Linked DNA regions of Homo sapiens. The protein of the gene in region 2 purifies or fractionates together with the protein of the main gene of each other region. This does not show direct contact. Each region holds a gene or a part of one and is shown on either strand. Other genes may lie near its edges. The genes, in order: DPYSL5, DNAAF2, SNAP91, CALB2, NCALD, GPM6A and SYN2.

Region 1 (3,500 bases), on a different chromosome or scaffold from region 2:
AAACCACATCGTGGGTCACCCGACCTAAGGCCTATCTTCCCAATGAGGAGATTCTCTCCCCAAACGATTTTTAGCCAATTGACTCTATAGATAACATGATCAAATGTCTGCATGTAATATATAACATAATATAGTGTTGTATCATATAATAACATAATATTGATGGCATAATCAAATGTCTGTTTATATCATTTACTTAGTTACACACGTATATTTGAACCACGATATAGAAAATGTTAATTTGGATATATTGTTTTGTTTTATGCTCTCAAATTTCATGAAGCAATTTTGTTCAAACATTTTGCACGCATCTTCAACCTCAGGGTCTTTGTCTTCAGTTTTTCTAAGCATAGGGGCTTCATTTTCATCTATCTTGTTTGAGACAGGCATTTTTTAGATGCATGTGTGATTTATCAGTGAAAACGGATCCTATTCACAACTCCGCAAGATACCACTTTAAAAAGAAATTGTTAAAAAGCCTCACTCGCAATCATAGAGTGAACCCCCAGGAAAAATGACTAAATCTGTATTAGAGATTCCCCCACTCAACTTTTTAAAAGTGAATTTCATCAGGGGACTTCTGTGAAGTTCCAAAACTAGCATCGATCAAAGGCTATTTCAGGCTAATGTGTTGTTCCCAAACAAAACTTAAAATAGAATTAAAATAAGTGAGAGTGGGTGCAGTGGCTCACACCTGTAATCCTAGTACTTTGGGAGGCTGAGGTGGGTGGATCACTTGAGGTCAAGAGTTCAAGATGAGCCTGGCCAACATGGTGAAGCCCCGTCTCTACAAAAATACAGAAATTAGCTGGGTGTGATGGTGGGTGCCTGTAATCACAACTACTTGGGAGGCTGAGGCAGGAGAATTGCTTGAACCTGGGAGGTGGAGGTCGCAGTGAGCCAAGAATGCGGCATTGCACTCCAGCCTGGGCAACAAGGGTGAAACTGTCTCAAAATAAATAAATTAATTAAATTAAATAATTGAGAGTCCCATAACATGAGAGTCTTTGTGAGGGCTCTAAGACAAAGTGACTCTTTTTCTGGTGAGAAATGGTTTGAGTCCTTACAGTGCTTCACGGCTCCACGTTCAAGTCCCTGCTCTGCTCCCTCATGGTTGGAATAACCTCTGCCAGGTTACTTAACTTCTCTGGATGCAAAGTCTTTACCTACACAATAGGGTGGCTTCCTTGTTGGGTAGTTGTGAAGGTTAAGTAAAACATTGCTTATGGAACAGATGTGGTAAAAGTGTTGTCCTAACATGTGTGTTTAGTTACTCAGAACTTAGGTTTTTGTTTTTGTTTGAGACTGGGTCTCACTCTGTTGCCCAGGCTGGAGTACAGTGGTGCAATCATAGCACACTGCAGCCTCAAACTCCTGGGCTCAAGTGATCCTCCCACCTTGGCCTCGCAAAGTGCTGGGACTGCAGGCATGAACCACTGCACCCAGCCAGAATTTAGGTGTTTATCTGTTTTCTGTAGGGGAGAAAAAGAGCTCCATGAAATTGTCTTAATGGTTTCATGCTTCTCTATTCAGTTAAATCCTTGATCACAAATGAAAAATATTGCTGGGGAATAAGGGACTGAAAAAAAATTAGCTCAGTGGCCCAACAGCAATTAAAATGAAAACTCTCACAACCTTGATGTTCCATGACGCAGGCTGGGCCAGCGAGAATGTTCCCAGTCGTCCTGGGGAACTCAGTGGTTTGACTGCTTGCACAGCTTAAAGCAACCAACAGAGGGTGGTAGTTCTGTGGCACCTGCAGGAGCTGTGATGGGGGCGGCAGAGGAACCGGGAGAAGGAGAGCAGTGCAGATTGTAGCTTTACTAGCAGGCTTCTATTTCCGATTTTGCTGGATCGTGCCAGGCTGATTCATCCTCACAGCAGGTGGTTGTACTCTATTTTGTCCTGAAATGCATCTCTTGCTTTTACATGTGCACGTGGGGGTGTATATTGAGCTTTACACACTAAATTGTTTCATTTTTCTGTGGCTCTAGATTGCTTTCCTTTGCACTCCCACAGTACCTCTGCAGGCTTGGATAGGAAAAGAGGAACCTGGAAACAGCACAGTGAGATAAAAGAGCCAGGACCAGTCCTCATACTGTGGGTCCCAGGGCAAGAGGAGAAAAGGAGGATCATGTGCTGATTCTCTAAACACTCAAAAGTTAGATCAAGCTAAAAAACCATTACACAGAATATACTCTATCCTCCTACTCTGTCAAATACATCTTCATAAAGGCCAAAAGGGCCTGGCCCTTAGAATCCTCAAGTTCCTTAAAATTCTGAGCTACACTTCAGGGATAGTTGGCCTCAGCCTCTGTGCCTGCCCCCAGCCCACACGCGCCTATCCTGAATTGATCCTGCAGCCTGCAGACCTAAGCTCTGTCCACCTTCTGCAAAAATGCTGTCCTTGAGCCTGGTATGCACACATTGGTGGTCTGTCCCCCAGGAGGAGAGATTCGGGGTTTTGTAGGCTCTGGAATGCTCAGGGCTGTTTCTCAGGGAATTCTAGGGACCCAGAGTGTAGTTTAGGAATGGGTGAGTGGGGTCTGGGTAGACACAATCCCCAGACCTATGGGGCAGGGGTACAAGTTGTTGGAGGGCCCGAAGAGGACCCTAAAGTCCAGAGCCCTGGGAAGAGGCCCCTTTTGCCTGGGTCTAAGGACAGGAACTGAAAATAGTTCAGGAAGGAGTTGGAAGCATAGGAGGTGGTCTTGACTTTCCCACGTGTTGGTTGTAATCTAGGAGCAGCCACGTGCCCCCTGACCTGCACCTTACTTCTCAGGGGTCCCCAGAGGGTCAGGTGGCAATGGATGTGAGAGCATCTATGAGCTGGGAGGGGCATGCACATAAGTATCTGGAATAATTATTACCGCTGTTACCCCAAGGCCTCGAAACAAGAGTTTCACTGGATCAGCAAACTCTCCCCCAGCTGCAGGCTCGCAAGCCCACACCACACACTGATGTTCAAGCACTTGTTTCCTCTTAGGCAAGACATACATAGAGTTGGCTTTTTGAATATGTACCATTCCAACCCACAGGATGAATGCTGACAAGCTCTGTTTTCACAGGAAAGTGGTATCACAGATGTGACAGACCTTTTTAGTGTCATCCCCCACAAAACAGCCTTGTAGAAATCGGCAGCAAGGCACAGCCCAATTGTGTTCCCGAGGCTTTCAAAAGGATGATGTTTAAGAACATGTGATTGCTGAATGCTCATGACTTTTTACACAAAAAATGGTGTTGGTTAAGTACGCTGCAGAAGATCTTTAATGGAAGCCAATAAAAATGATGTTCACTAGAGACGGGGTTTCACCATGTTGGTCAGGCTGGTCTCGAACTCCTGACCTCAGGTGATCCACCTCGACCTCCCAAAGTGCTGGGATTACAGGCGTGAGCCACCACGCCAGGCCGAGCTATTCTTTTAAGGTAAGCTTCCTGACAACATGAAATAATTGGGGTTTTTTTTGTTTAGTTACGTTAGGTTTTGCTATATCCCCGGG
Region 2 (3,500 bases):
ATTAAAACTAAATGTTTTAACTCTCAAATGTTTTAACTCTCAAATAGAAAACATACACATCTATTACAGGAATCACAAAACTTATCTCCATAAGGAAACTTTAAACTCCAGAGGCAAAAAAAAAAAAATTATCTCCAATTTCCCCCATGAGAATCAAAATTGCAATTTTTTAAAAAAAATTGCAAATTTTAATTTTATACTTTAATACCTTTAGTTTTAAGACAACAGTTAACAGAATCAATTTTAGATACAGGTATTTTTTAACCTTAATATTTAAAAGTCCAAAATTATATAGAATTAATCCAAATCATATAGCAAAGAATTCTGAAAACTGAATGCACAATTGGTCACATGATCTTTAATGACCTGCACACTACCATCCTGCATATTGGTTTCTTTTATGCTGTCGAATCCAGGTATATTGTGAACCGTAGTTTTGTTCAGTAATGAAGATAGGTGATCTCCATCTGTTTCTTTCTCTTCAGTTATTACTGACTCGTTTAAGTTATCTTTTTCCTCATTTGAACAAGTAGCACTTTTTTCTTTTATAAATTCAGATTGCATTTTTGACTCAGGTTGCTGAGATTTTCCAAGTATCATTTGAGAAACATCAAGAGACTCTTGTTGAAAGCATGTAACTAAACCAAAGCTATCTATTTGTAGTGCTTTAACTGCTATAGATGAATCAGAATCAGTTGTAGGGGTGTTACAATGTTCTATATATTCCTTTTCAGTTAGATGACTTTCTTCATTTACTCTTTCCTCCTTTCCTTGTAGCTGATCAGAGTTACTACATTCTTGCAACTGTGTCAAGAGAAACAACAAATTAATAATTATTTTAAATAATACAAAATTAAATTGTACTACCCTCTGGAAATAAAATTTTTAACAGTTGTGAGGTAATAGCCCTTACAGACCTGCAGGTATACATCCAGGCTTTCCTGTCAAAATTCATCCTCCAGGCTGGGCACAGTGGCTCATGCCTGTAATCCCAGCACTTTGGGATGCCAAGGCAGGCAGATCACTTGAGGTCAGGAGTTCGAGACCAGCTTGGCCAACATGGCGAAACCCCATCTCTACTAAAAACACAAAAATTAGCCGGGTGTGGTGGAGCACACCTGATAATCCCCTCTACTTGAGAGGCTGAGGCAGAAGAATCACTTGAACCCGGGAGGTGGAGGTTGCACTGGGCCGAGATAGTGCCACTGTACTCCAGCCTGGGTGACAGGGTAAGACCCTGTCAAAAAAAGAAAAAGACAGGCAGCATTTGAAGGATGACTTTTTTTGTTTTGAGACGGAGTCTTGCTCTGTCGCCCAGGCTGGCACAATCTCAGCTGACTACAACCTCTGCCTCCAGGTTCAAACAATTCTGCCTCAGCCTCCCAAGTAGAGGGGATTACAGGCATGCACCACCACGCCCGGCTAATTTTTGTATTTTTAGTAGACACAGGGTTTCACCATGTTGCCCAGTCTGGTGTCGAACTCCTGACCTCAAATGATCCACAAAGTGCTGGGATTACAGGTATGAGCCATCACGACTAGTCTGCTGCCAGTCTTTTTTTTTTTTTTTTTTTTTTTTGAGATTGAGTCTGGCTCTGTCGCCCAGGCTGGAGTGCAGTGGCGCAATCTTGGCTTACTGCAATCTTTGCCTCCCAGATTCAAGCGATTCTCCTGCTTCAGCCTCCCAAGTAGCTGAGATTACAGGTGCCTGCCATGACGCCCGGCTAATTTTTATATTTTTAGTACAGACGGGGTTTCACTGTTGGCCAGGCTAGTCTCGAACTCCTGACCTCGGGTGATCCGCCTGCCTCGGTCTCCCAAAGTGCTGGGATTACAGGTGTGAGCCACTGCACCCAGCCTACTGCCAGTCATTTTTTAACAATGTAAACCTGGCACTAATATCCTGATTATATCCTTTCACAACAATAATCCATACTTTTCAACATGGTCTACAAAACTATTTAACAGTTATAAGCACATTGTTGAATTTCTTAAATTTTCTTGAATTCCTCTAATTTTTCAGAGCCGCCCTTCTAATACATATGTCTGTCGATTGTGGTAGTTACTAAATCATTTGCATCTTCAATACTGAAGACTATAAAAATGACCAAAATTAAGATTGAATTAGAAAGAACGTACAAATTGTATAACATAGTTCTCATGGTTTGAGAGTCAAAAAAGATTGTATGTCCCTGGACTAGTACTCAAACTTCCTAAGTGTTAGTTTCTCTTTGTTCCTCATTGTAGGGTTATTTTGGGATTAAATAATGTGAAAATGAATAGCAAAGTGTTTAGCACATAATACATACACAGACAAAAGGCTTTTCTTGGCTGGGCGCGGTGGCTCATGCCTGTAATCCTAGCACTTTGGGAGGCCGAGGCGGGTGGATCATGAGGTCAGGAGATCGAGACCATCCTGGCTAACACGGTGACACCCAATCTCTACTAAAAATACAAAAAATTAGCCAGGCATGGTAGCATGCTCCTGTAGTCCCAGCTACTTGGGAGGCTGAGGCAGGAGAATCGCTTGAACCCAGGAGGCGGAGGTTGCAGTGAGATGAGATCGCGCTACTGCACTTCAGCCTGGGTGACAGAGGGAGACTCCATCTCAAAAAAAAAAAAAAGAAAAACTTTTCTTCTCTTAACATCACTCTGCCCAACCATTATGTAAATTTTGTTTAAAGTTATGATATTAAGAAATCAATAATTTGTTAGGTTTTAACTCTGTGCTTCATTACTCCTCTATAGAGCCCATCAACTTCCTTACCTTTGCATTAATTTGAATCTTATTATCAGTAACTTGAAGAACTTCAATTAATGGTGGGGTCAAGGACATAGACTGTTTGAATGGAGAGCTCAGGACCTCTTCAAGAAACTCATTAACATTTTCTTCATTGACAAATAACCTTTCCTAAAATAAAAAGGGAAAAAATATTCTGCCTAATAAGTCCCACTTGACAACAGTTGTATCTCAAAGCAGCTCACAAAAATTCTCACATTGTTCAGGGTTACACTTTTTAAAATGTTTATTTTAATGTTATTCCTATGAGCTGTCTTAGAAAAATTTAAGTTTGGTATTGTACAGAGCAATAAGAGTTGTACTGAGAACAAACATAAACGTATAGAAAAAGAACCTAAAAGAAAGAGGTCTTGGTACTTTTTCTGTCTATTAAACCTGACCTTTTAGTATTTTTCTTTCTTTTTTTGTTTCTTTTGTTTTGTTTTTTTGAGACATAGTCTCACTCTGTTGCCCAGGCTGGAGTGCAGTGGTGCAATCTCGGCTCACTGCAACCTCCGCCTCCCAGGTTCAAGCAATTCTCCTGCCCCAGACTACCGAGTAGCTGGGATTACAGGCGACTGCCACCATGCCGGACTAATTTTTGTATTTTTGGTAGAGATGGGGTTTTACCATGTTGGCCAGACTGGTCTTGAACTCCTGACCTCAAGCTATCCACCTGCCCTGGCCTCCCAAAGGGCTGGGATTACAGGTGTGAGCAACC
Region 3 (4,033 bases), on a different chromosome or scaffold from region 2:
GTTGGGGAAACTGATGGGAAAATGGCTAAATGATTCAGCATGCTGCAGCAAAGTGATCTGGTCACAAATTTACAATTTCTACTTCTCTTAGGTGCCCTGGCCCTGGTGGCCTCTTTCATCCTGTACTGCATATATAACATATAATGCTGTAATCAATAAATTTAGTTAAACATTCCCTTGGGAAAGGCATAATGGTACTTTCCCCTCCGATGAGCTTCTAGAAACAAAATTATTCAATTCTATGAGACAACAGGTTCACAAGGCTGGACAACTCTTACAATGTCCAGTTGTAAGCTTCATCAAGCTTCGCTTATGCAGATAATAGGGCTAGAGTGAATTCTGACACTGGTGCCATTTTCTTAGCTGCACAAAGGAAATAGCAGGAAAAAGACCCAAGACCAAAAAAACCCAGAAGATGGGCAAAGGAAGCCAGCTGAGGAAATGGCTGTGGCCATACCTGTGTCTCTCATGCCAACATTCACCTTTACCAAAAACATCACAATAGAACAGAAGATCCTAAGCAGGTCAAGAGAACTAAATAGCAACTGCTGAACATACACTCATATAGCCTGACTTATGAGAAACCTCACCACCCAAAGCAGGTGAAAGCCTTTTTCTTTTCTAAGTGCCTCTGTTTATCCTTCGGTGACAAAAGATTTACTGTTAATTAAGGTATTTCAGAAATATATAGATTCCAGAGTAGAATAAAGCCTTTTCCATCAAATAACCAGTTACAAAAATAATATTAAGAATTAAACGGTTTCATCTAAAATTGCACCATCTCAGATGCTGGGGAAGTACATCCATTTTGTGACCATAGCATAGTCATCTCACCCAGCATTTTCTGAGAATGGGACAAAGTGTGCCAGGATGTGTAAAATGAAATTGCCATAGCTATGAAGTCCAATTTCCTCATTCAGTACCTTGAATTTATTTCAGTTTGGTATGGTAACATACCTCACACACACACACACACACCCATACTCACAAAAACAATCCTCAGGAGCAACACTTAAAAAGATTATACTACCTTAGAACTATCTGAAATGTATTTAGGAAAGAACTAGGGTGACAAGTTTGACCTTCCATAAATTCATCTTTTTTTTTTTTGACTGTGCAACCTCTAATTTCCTCTAATTTGGAGAAGGGAGGGTGGGTGGAGAAAGAAAAAAAGGTGAAAAACATCTAATTCAGTGTGTACAATCTCTCTCTTGTGTGTGTGTATATACATATGCGTGTGTGTGTGTGTGTGTGTGTGTATTTTTCCCCCTCCACCAAGACCTTGGAGGTCAATAAGAGGAAAAAATGGCTCACAAGACAAGGTTTCATGGCTAACCCAAGGGAACACCTTCACAGCTGAAGAATTTCAGCTCAGGGGCAACCTGGCTGGGAGTATCAGAGGCCACAGCATTATGGACCAAGAGCGCAGGCCGCACCACCAGCATCCCAGGCGCCTCTGCCGTGCGCATGTCCCTCTTATATAAAGAGATGCTTACAGTCCAGGTGCTTTTTCTTGGGGCCCATTACTTCATGAGTAGTGGCTTTGCAGACCGCTCTTGCTACAGCAGAGCCTGTAACGCTGTACTGAGCGGCGGCGATCCGATCCGTGAGCGTTTGGCCCGACATCTTCTGTGGTCGCGTCTACCGCCTCCTCTTCTGCAGGAAACAAGGGGAGACGGTCCGGCTTTAATCCGCAGACCCTACCCTCCAAGCACCCAGGCCTTGCCTCCTCCAGCCGCGCGGCGGCTCTCTCCTCCTCCATCCCCACCCTGGCACCACCTCTCGGAGCCAGCAACGCGCCAAGCCCCGCTCCTGCGATGCGGTCCAGGGAGTCTTGGCCGTGAGTAGGGCCGTCACGGAACCCCAGCGTGGGCTCCAGTCGCAGCATCGTGACACCGTCCCCATTCTCCCCCGGCCCCCACATAGGGCCAGACTCACCCCCTGGGGACCCCCCTGTCAATCAGCACTTTCCCCGCAACCTGACCCGCGGGTGCTGGACTAGCCACAACGTGCGTTGGGGTTATTCCCTGGGCGCCGCACCCACCGGTGCCCATCTCCCACCTCAGCAGACTTTCCTCCTAGCAGCCCGCAGGCTTCGGGGAATGCATCGGATACCCAAGCCCTGGCTGCCTCCCTCCTCCTCCTCGCGCTGCTGCAGCAAAGGGCTCGTCCTCCCTCAGTCGCGAAGGAGATTATCCTAGCGTTGCGCCATGTTATGCCCTCGCCTCCCCTTCCTTCCTCGCCGCCGGCTCCAAAGCCTCGCCGAGGCCCATCGCCCGGGCCCCTTCCCCCCGGTTCCAAATCCCTGCCGCAGGGGCCGCCCGGGAGCTCTGCGGAGGCGCCGGAGTCTTGGGGCGCCTCACCCTTCCTGGCTTTGGAGAGGAGCCGGGCTGACAGCGAAGCCCAGTCCCCCGCCCGCCCTGGAGCGCTCCGCGGAGCTGTCACTCGGCCGCTGCCCTTCTCCGCACCCTGGGATTATCCTCTGCGGATCCCCGCGAGACCCTGGCGCGGGGAGGGGGCCGAGTACGGCCGCGGGTACTCACCCCGCCCCTGAGCGGCGCCGCCCGCCGCAGGATGAGCGGAGCCCGGGCCGCCGAGGGAAGCCGCGCCGGTGGATGTGTGCGACCGCGCGTAGCCCCGGTGCCCCCGGGCGCAAAGTCTCCAGCCCTGGCCGGGCCCCGCTCCTCAGCTCCGCGGTCCCGGCGCCCACCGCCCCTGGCCCCTGGCCCCAGAAGCCAGTACCCGCCCGCCGCCGCCTCTTCTGCCAGCGCCGCCGCGTCTCTCTAGCGCTCCGAGCTGCGTCCCCATCCCCGCCCCCACCTCAGCTGTGGCTCCTCCGACGAGTCAGGTGACGGCGGCGGACAAACCCGGACGAGCCCTCGGCGGAGCGCCTCGCGGCCCCCTCCCAGCTACTCACACACACCGCCCCCCGGGGCCGGGAGCTTAAAGGCGAGGGGGCGCCTCGCGCAAGCATCCCCGGCAAGCCGGCGGGGAGAAGAAGGAGGCGGGGAGGCCGACACCCACCCAGCCAGCGGCTCTCCGCTGGGCGCCGGGCCGCCCCTCCGCTGCTGGCGCCGCACCCGGCACGCACTGGGCTCGCGCACCACGCACACCTGCCCGCCGACTGCGGGGGGAGCCCTGGGCGTTGGGGGCGTTGGCCAAGACGGGCGAGTGGGCTTCTCGGGTTCTACTCTGTGAAGGCCAAGGCAAGGGCGTCGTCGCGCGCTGCCTGGCGGAGCCCAGCCCCTTCCCCACACTGTCGCTGACACGCCCGCCTGTCAAAGGCTCCGAGGCCCAGATGAGCAGGGCGATTTTAAATGTCAGATCCTGCCGGCCATCCGCGACCGTCACCTGTGCGTCTTCAGCTCCTCAGGCTCCTCCGCTTGTCTCAGTTACAACTGGGAGCCCGGGTGGGCAGGTAATTCTAGCCACTTTAGTCTTAAACGGATACTGAGGTCTGCTGAAGGGAGAATAATTAACACAGCCGTTAATCGAGTCCCAGATTACCTTCGACAGTAATCATTTGCGTGCATAAAGAAAACCCTTTGTACCCTTAAGAAGTAATTTCTGCCAATTAAATATAGTGTTGGAACGTCCGTCAATTGTATGTCAAGTGTATATTCGAATAGTAAGCAGGAATTTCTAAACAGGGATGTGGAGTTGGTTAATAGCTTCACGTGTTGACATTTTCAAAGGTTGTTATTTATGTTCACCTTTTTTTTTAATTCTCACAGTAGCATGAAGATCAAAACTATATTTGTGAGCTTTCCTGGCATTTTTTCTCCTTGCTTCGGGTGGCTTCTGCTCGGCCTTGAAGCCATATATCGATACCTATCGATCTCAACGTTTTGTTATATATTCCTCTCTTTCACCTGGTACAGTGTTCAGTATGCAGTCATGATTTCCTAACTACTGAGACTGATTCTAGGACTAATTGGAAGCTTAATGACTAAAGAGAGACAGCTTAAGAGCACTATTGTCTCAAGTACTAGTCTTACCATATTTACAAGGGAAATAAAAACGCAATTCTATT
Region 4 (3,500 bases), on a different chromosome or scaffold from region 2:
AAGGCATCCAGGAGGCCAGGCCGCTTGTCGGTCTATCTGGAGTTCAGATTTATCGAAGGCAAACAGTCCTCTAACCTCCATCTGGAGCACCCTCTGGGACAGTCAAATCCTACCCTTTGGGGTAAGAAATTGGCTTCCCCAGGCTCTGCCCCAGTATTAATCCTGCTTTGCTTGGTGCGCACCATTCCCAAAAAGCTTTCCACTTCCCACCTCATCTGTTCTTTACGACCCTGCCAGGTAAGCAGTTATCAACCCCATCTTAGAAAGGAGGAATCGGAGGGGGAAGGAGATTCAGCCACAGCTGACAGAGGTCCTGGCCTCCTTCTATTTGTCCCAGGGACAATGTCTGTCCATATCTGCATTTGTCCTGGCTTCTCTCTCTGACACACACACACACGCTTCTTCCAGTGGCTTCTGGAAAAAAGAATAAGCCCCAGAGTGAAGAGCTACCAGCCACCAGCTGAATGTTTGGGCACTTGAATTTCAATCTATGTTTCTGGGCTGTGCTGCTTTGGACCCGTGGTTCTGGAGCTGGGCTGGGTCCCCTGAACCTGTGGACATCTGGCAGCCTAATGCTGGGCTGAGTCCCAGGCATGAGGGAGGCCAGAAGGATAGGGCAGATTGGGTGAGAGGGGAGATAGTGAAGAGCCAACAAGGACAGAGGGAGGGCTGAAGCCAGAGGCCCCAGATGGGCCGGCTTGGCAAAGGAGGGCCTGGGATGCAATCCGCCGGCAGGCTGGGGCTGGAGAGGCACTGTTCTTGAAGAGCCTCAGGCCTGCTCTATTAATTCTAGCTCCTTTGGTTTTGGAATTGATTTCCCTGAGGGGTCTCCTTAGCCCTGGAAACCTCCCTCAGGGGCTTGGCTGGTAAAGCTGCTGAAGTCTGGAGGGGAATATACAAGCTGAGCAGGGCAGGGACAGCCGGCCTGGCTGTCAATATCAAGGCAATGCAGGGCTGGCATCTTGTTTGTGAAACGGGTCCCTTAGGCGGGCTCCCCCGGGGAGCCCCAGCTCTTCACAGACCAGCTGCTCCCCGCTGCCGGCTGGTGCAATCAGAGTCTGAGAAGCAGAGCCATAGCAGGCAAGAGCCCACCTGGAGGTACCCAGCGTAGAGCTGCTGCACGTGGACACTCCACAACCCAAGGACGCTGTTAGTGAAAAAACTGGGGAGTTGGGGGAGGGAGCAGAGGCAGGGGTGGGGGACATTTTCCAGGGCCTACCCCAGATGGGTCAGGCGGCTGTTCCCTGAGAGCCTCATATCCTGACATCACGCCACGCCCAGCTGAGAGGTATACAGACCCCCAGAGGTTCACTAACAGGGTTCAGAGAAAGCGCTCCTCTGACAACTTTAATCTTGGTTCCCAGTGTCGGACCCTGTTGATTTTAATGGGCCAAGACCCAATCGTTTTGATAAATCCTATGATTACCTTATAGCATTGTAACTGTTGTGTCATTTATATAAACACTTAATATACATCACATATTTTGTGACCCTATTTCAGCATGTGTTTCACTTTGGTATTGCAGGACCTCTCATGCAGCCGCCCAGGGCCAGTTGCCCAGGTTCCCGTTCATCTCTGAGAGGTGCTGCTGTTCTAAATTTCCTCCCCATTCCCTAAACCAGGGACAAACAAATGAGCAGTGACCCGTGCCCTGGAAGAGCCTGCCTGGGCACTGCAGTCTGGCCCTGAGTGGTCCTCAGTGTTGTGTGGGCTTGGAGAAGACTTCTGCCAGGTCACTGGGTTTCAGAGGGCGAGGATGGGAGCCTGCGTAGAGCCATCCTCAGCCCTTTGTGGCCTCTGTTGTTATTTTCAAAATCCTCAGGGTCCACATAGATAAGGAACAGGACTCAGTCCCTGTGAGAGGCTTTGAGCACCCCCTACGTCACCTGGGCCACTTGGAGGTGGACAGAAGCCCAGAAGAGTATAGGCAGATCCCCCCACCTGGAGACATATACATATTTCTTACAAGGGAAGAAAAGGTGTCTATCACATTGTTTTCTTCTTATATCTTTATTTATTTAGTTAGTTATTTTTTTAAAGATAGGGTCTGGCTCTGTTGCCCAGGCTGGAGTGCAGTGGTGCAATCATAGCTCACTGCAGGCTTGGACTACCTGGGCTCAAGCCATCTTCCTGCCTCAGCCTCTCAAGTAGCTGGGACTACAGGCGTGCGCCACCACACCTGCTTAATTTTTAAATTTGTAGTAGGGGGAGGGGGGGTCTCACTGTATTGCCCAAGCTGGTCTCGAACTCCTGGCTTCAAGTGATCTTCCTGCCTTGGCCTCCCAAGGTGCTGGGATTATAGGCCTGAGCCACTGTGCCTGGCCTCCCTTCTTATATCTTTATTGTTTTGCTGACTACACAGGAAATAGATGCTCTTGTAAAATTTTCAAGTGCTATGGAAATTAACTTAGAAAGTAAAAGAAAATCCCCTTTCATTTGGCTCATCCACTCTTCAGAGAGAGCCGCTATTATTCAGTTGTATTTTTCTAAATATCCTGCAACATACATATATCATTCATAATAAAAACGGGCTTATAATAGTGTTCAGCTACAGTTTTAAACAATATCTTAATAATACATCTTGGACATTTTTCCATGTCACTACAAAAGCTTCACTTCGCTCTATCATACTCCATCATAGGGATGACCATATTTATTTTTCTGTCCCCCAGTGAAGCACATTCTCCCCTCCACCCACTGAAATTGTTAGTATTTCCGAAGAACACTGTAATAGACATGTTTGTTCATATAACTTTCTGCGCACATACGAGTATATCTATGTAGGCTAGATTCTTGGAAGGGAGTAGGATGTTCACCTTGGCCCCATGAATGTCTGCTTGCCCCTGGAAGAGAACTCATCTTATCTTTACATTCTTAGTTGCTTTCAAAGGGGTAGCAAAAGCTAAGGCATTTCTCTTTGGAGCCACAACTTTGCTGCTCGCAGATGGTCAGTAAAATAGGAGCCCGGTGGCCTGTCTAATCAGAACCATAAATAAAGGACAGTGTGAACTCTGAACTGGGCATCCCTCAGCCACCTGGATCCTTTAGAGGGGGAAAGGTCCTGATACAGAAGTGTCCAGGAAGCAACAGAGCAATGGGCTCAGATACGTAAGGCCACGTCAGGGCCACTCGGAGCATGGAGGTGATGTTCGGAAGAGCCCTAGACCCCACCAGGGTCACTGGGTGGGCTTGGCTGTCATCTTCCCTACCTCAGCCTTTGAGAGACAACATTGGAACCCTCCCAAACGCATGCTCTTGGCTGACTGCTGAGGCAGAGTTGGTGGAGTGGTATTGCGGACTAGGAGACCAGATTCCTGGTTCCCCCTTCACCTCTTCCTGCTTTGCTGTGTGATCTTGTGAAAAGAATTTTGCCTCTTTGAGTCCTAGTTTCTCACTCTCCAAACATACACTTCTTCCTTTCTCTACCACAAAGCTAATAAGAATTTTGAAAATAATCCAACTCTTTAGGGTGATGGTGGCTTTTTCTGTTTTGGAATGG
Region 5 (3,500 bases), on a different chromosome or scaffold from region 2:
GTAGGCTGTTTTGACAGTCTGAGGAGAAAGAGAGTTCTATTTCTAAATAGTAACAGATCGACCTTTAAAAATTGGAAGTTGATCAACATTTTTCAAGGTGGGCACAAACAGATCTAATGACAATTTCTTTTGCAAAGTGGAATTTGGACCAAAGATTGCATCTTTAATGGTTAAATAGCTTCTATTTTGTGAAATATATTCTGAATATACCAAAATATATATATATACCCTGAGAGAGAGAATGGTTTGCTTTAACTACCCCTGGCAGTTGGGCTTGTACCAAGGTTGGTACCACGTTGTCCCATTCAACCTGGGAGACTTTCTAGTCCTAGTAATATACTCAGATAGTCTTATGTTAGTCTTCTATTAATATTCATTTTAAATAACTTAAGTATACAGATCTTGTACCAAGAGCTCAGGGCTCACCAAGGGTTCCCTCACCATTCCCTCCTGAATAGCTGGGAGGTGACAAGGAGCACAACATGGGCAATGGCCTTGGGGCAAAGGCCTCTCGACACAAAAACCAATTTACAAACCTTCACAATTGCCAGCAGCAATAGCAAGTGATGTTTTGTAAGTGGAAAACATACCTTTCATTCACCATCAGAGACTGAAATAAATGACTCAACTGGTTTAAAATCTTTATGTGATCAAATAGTTAAAAAACATATCACCGATTCAATTTCTTCTGGTGTTGGACCTTAGGGACAGTACTAATCTGTGTGCTACTAGAGTGAAATTATCATCAATATCAACGCATTACTCTTCACTAGAATGATTAACAGATGGTGTTTTTGTTGGCTACCCAGGGATTTGTTTTCTATTATTCTTTGTATTGTACATATATGTTATATACACTTTTTTGCATGTATAATTTATAATATTTTTCTTAAAGATGGCATGCTCTGGTTAAGAACATTCTGATAGTTGCCAGACACTTATATTGATGATCAGTATTCAAAGATTTCAGGTGTAATGTAATGCAATGCACTCATAACTTACAACTAAAATTTCACTGAACACAACCTAATTTTTCATTGGTGACATGATTCAAAGATTTTTCAGAATAATGTGCAGTGTCTCAGGGGTTTCAGTATATATATATTGTATGTTTTATATATATATAAATATACATATAATATATATTTATATAAATTTTCATTGTATACTCATTATAGTATAGTTTTATAGAAAATGTTTTAAAGGCTTGACTTGTTCATTTGGTTTGGAACTTATATGAGTATGACTTTGATGAGTAATAGGTTATATGTTTAAAACTATGAAGTTACACAGCTTTGCCTACGGATATAACCCAGCTAAAGTTAAAATGGCTACTCACACCTACGGAGGGCAAAAGATAATTCACATTTCTTAAAATTTAAGAAGTTAAAACTTTTCTATGAGAAAAATGGACAAAAATACTTAGCACATATTCAGGGATTTAAATGAGCTGTGTAAAGAAACAGAGTCACTAAAATATTCTCACCCCACTTAACATGTACATCACTTCCCTGCTCCCAGCTTTCCCCAGCTTCCTAGTGTCTATCAGATCAAATCCAGCTTAAGTGGATAAATCCTAGATCCTCCATGGACCCACCATATAGATTATATATTTTTTCCTTTTCCCAACCATGTTCTTGACTCCAGGTGGGGAGGTGTCCTATTTCTGTCACTAGAATGTTCTCATCATGCTTCTCAATGAAGGATTATCCTTTCACTTTTGCTCCTCATGCCAGACGCTCTCTATCCTTTAGGCCCAACTCAAAGCTCACTTCCTCTCCAAAGTCATCTCAATGCCATATATCCTCTGGGGTTAATCTGTTCACTAATCACCTAACAGAGATGTAAAGAGGAGGCACTGTATGTCCTGCATGATGCTGGGCACTGTGGGAAGTTGTAGCCAGTGTGGAAGACGTAGCTCTGGCCCTCAAATGCAGATGCCATCCAGCCTTCCTAACTAGACTGTTACCTTTTCAAAGACTGGCTGGTCCTATATTACTCATGCAGTATCCTACTTAGCTGAAATATCTTGGATGAGATGGGATATATCCCGGTTATTGAAAAGTCTGGGTGATTGCACCACATCTGCCCTGTGTCTATGGTAAGCAAATGAGGAACAGCTGGAGAAACCTTAGCAGTCCTTGGACATGAAAGGAATATTTTCATAGGCACTTAACTCTAGGGCTCACTGTACAGAGTTAACAAATGCTGAATGAATAAATGAATGAGAGTCTTCTTAAGGGAAGAGGAGTAGACTATTAGGATGGGGTGAAGTTTAAGTAAGTGAGAAGAGAGTTGGGGCATTGATTTCTCTACAGCAGAAGGGAAAGGGATGCCTCTTTGAGTAAGGACACAAGGACCACATTTCTGAGGATTTCAAATGCTAGATTTGACCAACACATGGAGCCACAGACCAATGGGACAGCTGCCATTTTGGCAATTTTGTTAAGAGGCATAAGATTTTGTTGAATTAGCTAAATTTTACCTGGCTAAGGAGAATACCCTAGCTTTACTACAAACCAGTAGAGCAGAAAACATTGCCCTAGAAGCATAGGAAATGGGCCAAAATAGTGTCAAAGATACAGCAGTTTCTAACAATAGAAAAGTAGGCAGCAATTTAGACAGAGTAGGTATGGGAGAGGGAGACAAAGTGGACAAGGAGGACTGAGCATGTCCTATGATGGTCTAGGACAGATGATACGAGTACTGCCATCCACACTGCACTCTCCTGCAGGGAGGGTCCCAGTCAGTGGGGGCCAATGAGCGAGATCTTGCTAAGGCATGCAGTCTGGCCTCAGTGTAGCCCAAATCTTTTCCTAGAACCAGCAACAGCATTAACCTGTAGGACATTGTTCCAAATTTCCAAAAGCTCATTTGTAATTTGGTTGGTAACAGAAATATATTTTCCTCCAGAAATTAGGTTAGGTTAGGCCAAATCACAAAAGTCTATTTAATAATCCATATGTACCTGAAGTTTAGCCCTCTACACAGGCATTTCACTCATTTCTAATTACCCAAATGTCCCAGTTACTCTGATTGCCTAAGAAATTACCCCCCCACACCCCAAATCTTACGGGCTTAAAACAGTAACAACTTTTATTTTGTCCATGAAACTGCAACCTGGGGCAGAGCTCAGCAGGGATAGTGCATCTGTGATTCCCTGGCATCAGGAGGGGGAAGGAAGACCTGATGACCGGGCCTGGAGTCATCTGACAGCTTGCTCACTCACATGCCTGCCAGTTGATGCTGGATGTCGGCTGAGACTTTAGCAAGAGATGTTGGCTGAAATACCTACTCTTGGCCTCTCTATGTGGTCTGGGTTTCCTACAATATGGTGACTGGATTCTAAGGGAAAATGTCAAGAAGAAAAAGAATAGCAAGAGAGAAAAAAATTGTATTCTTTTTATGATCTATCCTTGGAAGTCACCTAGCATTATTTCCACTGTACTCTATCAGTTGGACCAATCATAAGCCCATTTAGGTTCAAAGGGAGGGGCAAT
Region 6 (3,500 bases), on a different chromosome or scaffold from region 2:
TCCACCAAATAATGGTATCACAAGTTCATCTCAAAACACAAATTAGTGATTAATACATCAAAAAACTTAGTACACCAAAATTGTAGAGAGAATATGATGAGCATTGAAAGGTTAGATGGAAATACTCTTCCGATACCATTGACCAGAGCTCAAATGCCCTGTTTTCAGATACTGTCTTGATCCCATCTAAAATATAAGCCAATTGTGTGAGACTATATACCAATTAAAATACAAAAACTAAAATAAAGCGTAAAAGAAGGCAAAAGAAAATTGATTACTCATTGCATGCTATTTTTTAAATTCATTACCTTGAACATTACTAAACATATCCTAGAAAAGGTCTTATCTTATTAAACTGTCCTCAATGATTTCAAACTGTTATTTCTTATGTAATTTTGTTTTCTTTGATCAATACTTATGAATGAACACAGTAAGCCTAGTGTCAGCAAATTTGTAAACTACTTTGTTAAATTTTAACAGCGTATTATAAAATATTATGACATAATTTTCCAAGTTTCAGTAACCATTTGCTGAATCTGACAGTTTAATGTATTTGACTTCATTGCCAGAATCACAATGCTAAAAATATGTGTGGGCTCTTTAATAATAAAAAAAGAAAATCTATTCATTTTCAAGAAAGCTGCTACCAAACTACTGAATATATTTCAGGTCAAAGAATAAAAGAATTATTTTTAATTCAAATCTAATGACATAAAATGGAGTCCTTGCTGCATTCTCCCAAGCCAGGTTTAGCTGCTCTGTTAGATCTGTCTCTATTTAGGGGAAAAATTGTGTTTTATTCTTTCTTTAGTCTGCACAATTGACCTCTTCTTCTTCCTCTTTATCCTCTTCTTTTTCTTCCCCTCCCCTCTTCCTTCTCTTTCTCCTCCTGTTCTCGTTTCATCATCATCATCATCATCATCATCATCATCATCATCATCAGCTATGAATGGGTTTGTATTCAGAGCACTTTGCAGGTTGGGTTCATGAACAAACGATAAAAACTTTACCCTTCAGGAATTTGTACTTTGAGAATGGAGCTACAGCATAACACATACATAAGAAAAAACAGTAAGATATGCCATATAGTAAGTGACAAACATTTAAGAAATAACTGTTACAACAATTCGAAAAAGTTATTAGTCCTTTAATTCTGACTCTCTGACTCAAGGAAAATTGCTTGGTCACCTTTTTAAATGGGCACAGTGTGTTAAGATGAGAGGAAAGGAAACATGGAGAAGGAATCTGCATTTACTCAACTCCTAGTATGTTCCAGGAATTGTAATAGGCGCTTTTACCTAGTCTTTATTACATCTAACTCACATTAAACAGACCTAAACCCAAAGATAATGGTAGAGAAAATTAATTCTCAAAATGGAGATTTTGAAAAAAATATGGTTGAATAACACAGATTAAGTTACAGAGAAAATGAAGGTGGAGAAAAGGAGCCAGGGCTTTAACACAGGTCATCTGATTGGGAAACCAAAAGTCAATTGGCCACTCATTATGATGGTCAATTGAAAAACTCCTGGCCCTTATACATATTTAAAATTCATGGAGACAATCTGAGTGGGTGGTTTCTGAATTCTAGATCTTATGACTCAATTACAACTTTCTACTGTGAAAGGTTGAGCAGAGATTTAAAATGCTTTAAGTTCAATTATTCTGACTAATATTCAAAGCATTCTTTTCACTGTAAAATGGTTTTTTTTTTTAACTTGATGAAAAACTAAAATAACGTCTCTGAGACAATAAACCACTAAATGAATCTGGCTTTGGTAATACATTGGTACTATTTAAAACAGAGATTCTCAAAGCCTATGGTTGGTTTTAAATTGACAAACCACATTCAGTGTCATATCTAAGAGTTCCATTGTTCAAACATTGCTCAATCCTTATTTTAATAATGAATTCTATTATTGAATATTGAAATATTGAAAGGTGTTTGAAGAAAAATAAATATAATTCCTTACTGCCACTCAAATGTACAGTCTGTGGTTCCAAAAATTTGAATTTAAATGCCCTTATTGTGGGAAAAATAAATTTTTAACTAGAAAAATGGAGAAATCATTTGGCTCATTCTCCCTTCTGCCCACCTCATAATCTTTCTTGGAACTGAAATGGAAGACTACCTCATTTTGTTACATGACAATTCTTTTTTTCTCTGGATGTTTGTGTGAGGTTTTCTCTTAGTTTCCTGTAGAGTTTGAACCCAATGGCCCTTGACTAAATAGTGTGACCGTAAAGTCAAAGAACATTTGATATTTATTAAAAAGCTGTAATCAATATTTATTAACTAGTGTTAAGATATATTGACATTAGACACTGCATATGAAATGCTTAGAACAGTGCCTGGATTATTAAATATTAGCTATTATTATTAATATTTTCCTTGACAAATAAATCATGCTAGTAAAAGTACTTAATTATGTTTCTGATGTTCAATAACGAAACTGAACAGAAAAACTGATATGGTATAGGCTGTTAAAAATGAAAGTGGGCCGGGCTCGGTGGCTCACGCCTGTAATCCCAGCACTTTGGGAGGCAGAGGCGGGCGGATCACGAGGTCAGGAGATCGAGACCATCCTGGCTAACACAGTGAAATGCTGTCTCTACTAAAAACACAAAAAATTAGCTGGGTGTGGTGGCGGGCGCCTGTAGTCCCAGCTATTCGGGAGGCTGAGGCAGGAGAATGGCGTGAACCTGGGAGGTCGAGCTTGCAGTGAGCCAAGATAGCCCACTGCACTCCAGCCTGGGCGATGAGCGAGACTCCATCTCAAAAAAACAAAAACAAAACAAAACAAAAACAAAATGAAAGTGGATATCCACCAACACAGGAAATGTGTAGAAGAATCTCAAAAAATTTTTTTTTCAAAAAAAAAAGCTGTCAAGTTTTGGGGGGAAGGTAATTTGGCCGTGTACTAGTTCTTTATTTGAATTATTAACTAAACTTTGTTGCATAAAACAACAATCGGAATAAATACAGGTGTAAAGTTTTTCTCCCATATTTTATTTTTGTTAAGAAAGAATAGGTAATTCACCATTCAAATAACCTTTCTAATGGGGAATATTAATTGCAACCATAAAAATGTAGAAAATAGTTTCCCAGACATTGAAAGTTCTATTATAAATCAATGAAGAATGCTAATTAGCAAAATACTTTAATTGCCTCACTTTTACTTGATAACCAAGAAAAAGCATGACCATCCCCTTTTAGGAGACAATATGAACAATCTCTTTTATGTTTCTAGCATCATTCTCAGGGATAGATTTCATCCAATTCCTCTCTTTGATGGAGGTAAGTAAAGTAAAACTCATCATTTCTCATATGATAAAAATTTAAGTCCAAAAACATTAAACAATTGAAACAATGTAAGAAAGTGTCTTTCTTTCTTTGGGAAATCAATCTGGATATATACAGCAGTTAATGTTCTAACATGTTGACATCTCTTAATACACATCATTTAAAAGCCGACAGTCATTCTTCCTTTTTTCTCTGA
Region 7 (3,500 bases), on a different chromosome or scaffold from region 2:
GGCTAATCCTGTGATGCCTGCTGTGTATATTTCCTCATCAATGATGGGAATTGGGACTTGTGGCTAAATCTATGTGGGAATCTAAAACAAAAGATGACAATGCCACCTGATAAGCTTGCAGAAGTTCTTACAAGATTTACAGGTGTACACATAGTGGGAGTGCCACTAAACACACAGAAAAACCAAGATACAACTCTGTCTTGAGGCTACTGCATTTAACCATGACTTCACTCTAGGTGGTGGATATGATCCTGAAAAAGCTGTGTATATTGAGTTTTTGTAAATTGAATAATTTCAAAAACAGTGGGGCACTCACTATTTAAATGAATTGTGGAAAATCTTTTGCAAGAGAAATTGCCTTTTTTATAAGAAAAAAATTGTTACCTAATTTTTTTTAGCTTCCCACATAGAAGCAATTGGGTATCATAAAGCTACAATATCTCTTTAGAGAAAGGAGAGGATGATCTAGAAGGCTTTTCTGTTCTGCAGACACTGCTTCAATACAGCAGGAAGACGTAGTTTTTAGTAGGGCAGTGACCTGTGGAGAGAATAAAGTGAGCAGATACCACAGGTGCCTGAACTCTAAGGATGTCCATGCTGCATGACTAAGAATAGGAGGATGTATATGGGCCTTGGTGTTTGTTGCTTGACAGCAGGCATTTCAGAAATTTTAACCAGTTCATGTAAGATTGTAAAATAGATTAGATTCAGTCACCCTGCCCTTCTTTCCTTTTCAGCAGCATGAAACAATGTGAGATACAGGATTGAGGGTCAAAAGACTTCGAATTGAGATCTGGCTCCACTGTTAGCCTTATGGCCTTATCAGGTTTACATAATCTCCTTGAGCCTTTCTCCCATCTATTTGACAGATTTCCGCTGGAGGTCTACTATATATCAGGCACTGTTCAAGGTTCTAGAATAACAGACAAAAATTAGTTTCATTACCTGTAAAGTGGAGATAACATTATGTATTTCTGATACCACTGTTGTGATAATTAAATAAAATAAGGTACCATAAAAGCATTTTGTAAAAGCTAAAGAGCCATACTAGTAGTTAGTGTTACATCTTTCCCTGTTTCCAGCCGCAGGTATCTGATCTACCTTGGTTCCTTTTTTGAGTTCCCAAAATTTTGTTATGTAAGTGATTGTTTATTTTGCACACTTCTGGGATGAGGAATCTTCTTTTTGTTGTTGTTATTTAGTTGAGGGCCACCGACTCAAGACAATATCATCAAAGGCTTTCTTTTGTGTTTTTCAAAAGGCAATATAACTTAGTTTTTTTTTTTAATGACAAAAACATTACCCATTAACTCAGCTATATTTAATAATTAGGGGCAGAACCACATAAATCTTAATTTTATTTAATAAGTGAATTCTAAAATAGCTCTCCTTCAGTTTTACTTGTAACTAATTAAGGAAGGATGGCTACAGAGGAAAATGAAGGAAGAGAGAAATACACAGAAGGCCTTTAAAAGGTAGTGCTTGTATTTGTTTCCCTATCCAATCAAAGCCTAGAACATTGCTTTCAGAATATTTTTAAGCAAAACAAAAGCATTCACGGATCTTAGAAAGTTAGCTTCTTTCTTAACATTCTTCCCTAACACGTAGTTGCTCATTGTGCTTATTCACAGTTTGCCTCCAGCTTTTCAGACTCATTTCTCACTGTCCCCTCAATCCTGAATTTTGCTGTACTCTGGATTACCCTCTCCCTGCACACATGCTGGACTTTTAAGACCTGGTGCTATTATTGCACAGCTGCCTTTGTTTGGAATGCTCTTGTCCTGGTTCTCTTACCTTAACGTTGATTTTCTTTATTTCATTCTCCGAGGATAAAGGCATTGCCTATTGTTGAAAAAGACTCATCTCTTGTCTTCTGCATGACCTTGCTTAAGATTTCATCTCTCTTTTTCCTTCTGTTCATATTCTCATTTTCTACTGATTGCTCTTTCTATGGGTTGCTCCATTCTTGTAAATAAAGTAACAAATGAAAAACTCATCCTCACCTTCCTAATCACTCTTCCAAACATGAAAGATAAATCTCACTCGTTACTTATCCAGTTATTTGCCCTTTTCCACTGACACTGGCCTTCTGCCTTCTCTGTAATATTGATACTGTTCTTGCTAGGGAACCTAATTGCTAAATCCAGAGGAAGGTGTCAAATGTTCACTGATGTGTTTGACACTGTATATCTTCCCTTTGGAAGTCGCTTGGCTTCAGGACACTGCATTCTTTGTTCCTTTTTAAAATTTTTAAATAGTTTTGTAAAGACAAGATCTTGCTATGTTGCCTAGGCTAGTCCCGAAGTCTTGGCCCCAAGTGATCCTCCTGCCTCAGCCTCCCAAAGTGTCAAGATTACAGGCATGAGCCACCACCCCCAGCCTCTTTGTTCTCTTCATACTTGTTTTATCGAAGTTTCTTTTCACTCTTCTTGTTCTTTCCCTTTGTCTACCTCATTAAATGTAGATGTTCCTCCGGGCCCCCTTTTCCTGCCCACTTCTTTTTTTATACTGCATATTCTCCCTGGTCCATCTACTCTCAAGGTGTCAGTTACCTCTTAAGTACAATCAGTTCCCTAATCATTACCTTTAGTCCAAAACTTTGTCCTCATCTTTAGACATATGTGCAGCTGCCTGCTGGACATCTCCATCTGGGTGGTTAAGAGTCGTTTGATCCAATATTGAAATCCATGTTTTTCCTTCCTATTCCAGCTCTTCTATTCTGTATTTTAAGTGGGACACCGATGGTCACCTATTTCAAGTTCTCATTAACTTTCACCTAGAACTTCTGCAAGTCTCATCATGATTTCCATTTAGTAACCTGAATGAACTATTTAAAATGCAAATTTGACCTTTTTACTCCTTTGCTTAAAGTTTTTCAGGAGCTTCTTACATCCTATAGGTAGTTTATGGCCCTCCTGTGATTTGACCCCTGCTTTCTTCTCCTGCCGTCTCTAATTATTTCCATGTCCAGACTTCCTTTTCCAGCAATACTGAACTGTTTGCACTTCCATACACACATTGTTGCATTCCTCCTCCTTGTCTTTACTGTCTGCTACTACAGTTTCCCTTCCTCCCCTTTCCTTTTCTTGATTAAATTCATATTCATCTTTTGAGACTGAGTATTTCCTTTTCCAGAAACTCTTCTCTAACTCTCTAGATTGTATTGAGCGTCTATGCCCCCTCCATGCCCTCTTTCAATACTGCAAGTATCTTTATCTCTGGACACAACACAATGGTCTGTTTATGTGTCTGCTTCCCCACTAGATAGTGGGTTCTCTGAGGACAGACAGGCTGAATGTTTCATTCCTTTTTGCATCCTTAGCATCCAGCATAGGGCTTGACACATAGATTGAGGACAGTAAATCTTTGCCATATTGAATTGAGCAGCAAGAGAGTCAAAGGATGAGATAAGGGATAGAAGGTAACAATGAAGAGAGGGAAGTATCCTAGGATTAGAAGTATATGTTAATATGTTGGAAGTCATCCTTACTGTCTTCAAA

What was found.
Region 1: the proteins of DNAAF2 (region 2) and DPYSL5 purify together in Homo sapiens (affinity purification with mass spectrometry; 3 studies listed by BioGRID and IntAct, with this or other methods). This does not show direct contact.
Region 3: the proteins of DNAAF2 (region 2) and SNAP91 purify together in Homo sapiens (affinity purification with mass spectrometry; 3 studies listed by BioGRID and IntAct, with this or other methods). This does not show direct contact.
Region 4: the proteins of DNAAF2 (region 2) and CALB2 purify together in Homo sapiens (affinity purification with mass spectrometry; 3 studies listed by BioGRID and IntAct, with this or other methods). This does not show direct contact.
Region 5: the proteins of DNAAF2 (region 2) and NCALD purify together in Homo sapiens (affinity purification with mass spectrometry; 3 studies listed by BioGRID and IntAct, with this or other methods). This does not show direct contact.
Region 6: the proteins of DNAAF2 (region 2) and GPM6A purify together in Homo sapiens (affinity purification with mass spectrometry; 3 studies listed by BioGRID and IntAct, with this or other methods). This does not show direct contact.
Region 7: the proteins of DNAAF2 (region 2) and SYN2 purify together in Homo sapiens (affinity purification with mass spectrometry; 3 studies listed by BioGRID and IntAct, with this or other methods). This does not show direct contact.

Annotation. Positions count from the first base shown.
Region 1 is NC_000002.12:26,921,132-26,924,631, reverse strand, and holds part of DPYSL5 (dihydropyrimidinase-related protein 5), read right to left. Parts: intron 1-3,500. UniProt on the Homo sapiens protein: Involved in the negative regulation of dendrite outgrowth.
Region 2 is NC_000014.9:49,625,245-49,628,744, forward strand, and holds part of DNAAF2 (protein kintoun), read right to left. Parts: intron 2,912-3,500; coding exon 2,768-2,911; intron 805-2,767; coding exon 298-804; 3' UTR 1-297. UniProt on the Homo sapiens protein: Required for cytoplasmic pre-assembly of axonemal dyneins, thereby playing a central role in motility in cilia and flagella.
Region 3 is NC_000006.12:83,706,302-83,710,334, forward strand, and holds the start of SNAP91 (clathrin coat assembly protein AP180), read right to left. Parts: upstream 2,801-4,033; 5' UTR 2,544-2,800; exon of another isoform or gene 1,939-2,543; intron 1,657-1,938; 5' UTR 1,627-1,656; coding exon 1,497-1,626; intron 1-1,496. UniProt on the Homo sapiens protein: Adaptins are components of the adapter complexes which link clathrin to receptors in coated vesicles. Clathrin-associated protein complexes are believed to interact with the cytoplasmic tails of membrane proteins, leading to their selection and concentration.
Region 4 is NC_000016.10:71,361,723-71,365,222, reverse strand, and holds part of CALB2 (calretinin), read right to left. Parts: intron 1-3,500. UniProt on the Homo sapiens protein: Calcium-binding protein involved in calcium homeostasis and signal transduction. It plays a critical role in buffering intracellular calcium levels and modulating calcium-dependent signaling pathways.
Region 5 is NC_000008.11:101,780,970-101,784,469, forward strand, and holds part of NCALD (neurocalcin-delta), read right to left. Parts: intron 1-3,500. UniProt on the Homo sapiens protein: May be involved in the calcium-dependent regulation of rhodopsin phosphorylation. Binds three calcium ions.
Region 6 is NC_000004.12:175,802,265-175,805,764, forward strand, and holds part of GPM6A (neuronal membrane glycoprotein M6-a), read right to left. Parts: intron 1-3,500. UniProt on the Homo sapiens protein: Involved in neuronal differentiation, including differentiation and migration of neuronal stem cells. Plays a role in neuronal plasticity and is involved in neurite and filopodia outgrowth, filopodia motility and probably synapse formation.
Region 7 is NC_000003.12:12,010,888-12,014,387, forward strand, and holds part of SYN2 (synapsin-2), read left to right. Parts: intron 1-3,500. UniProt on the Homo sapiens protein: Neuronal phosphoprotein that coats synaptic vesicles, binds to the cytoskeleton, and is believed to function in the regulation of neurotransmitter release. May play a role in noradrenaline secretion by sympathetic neurons.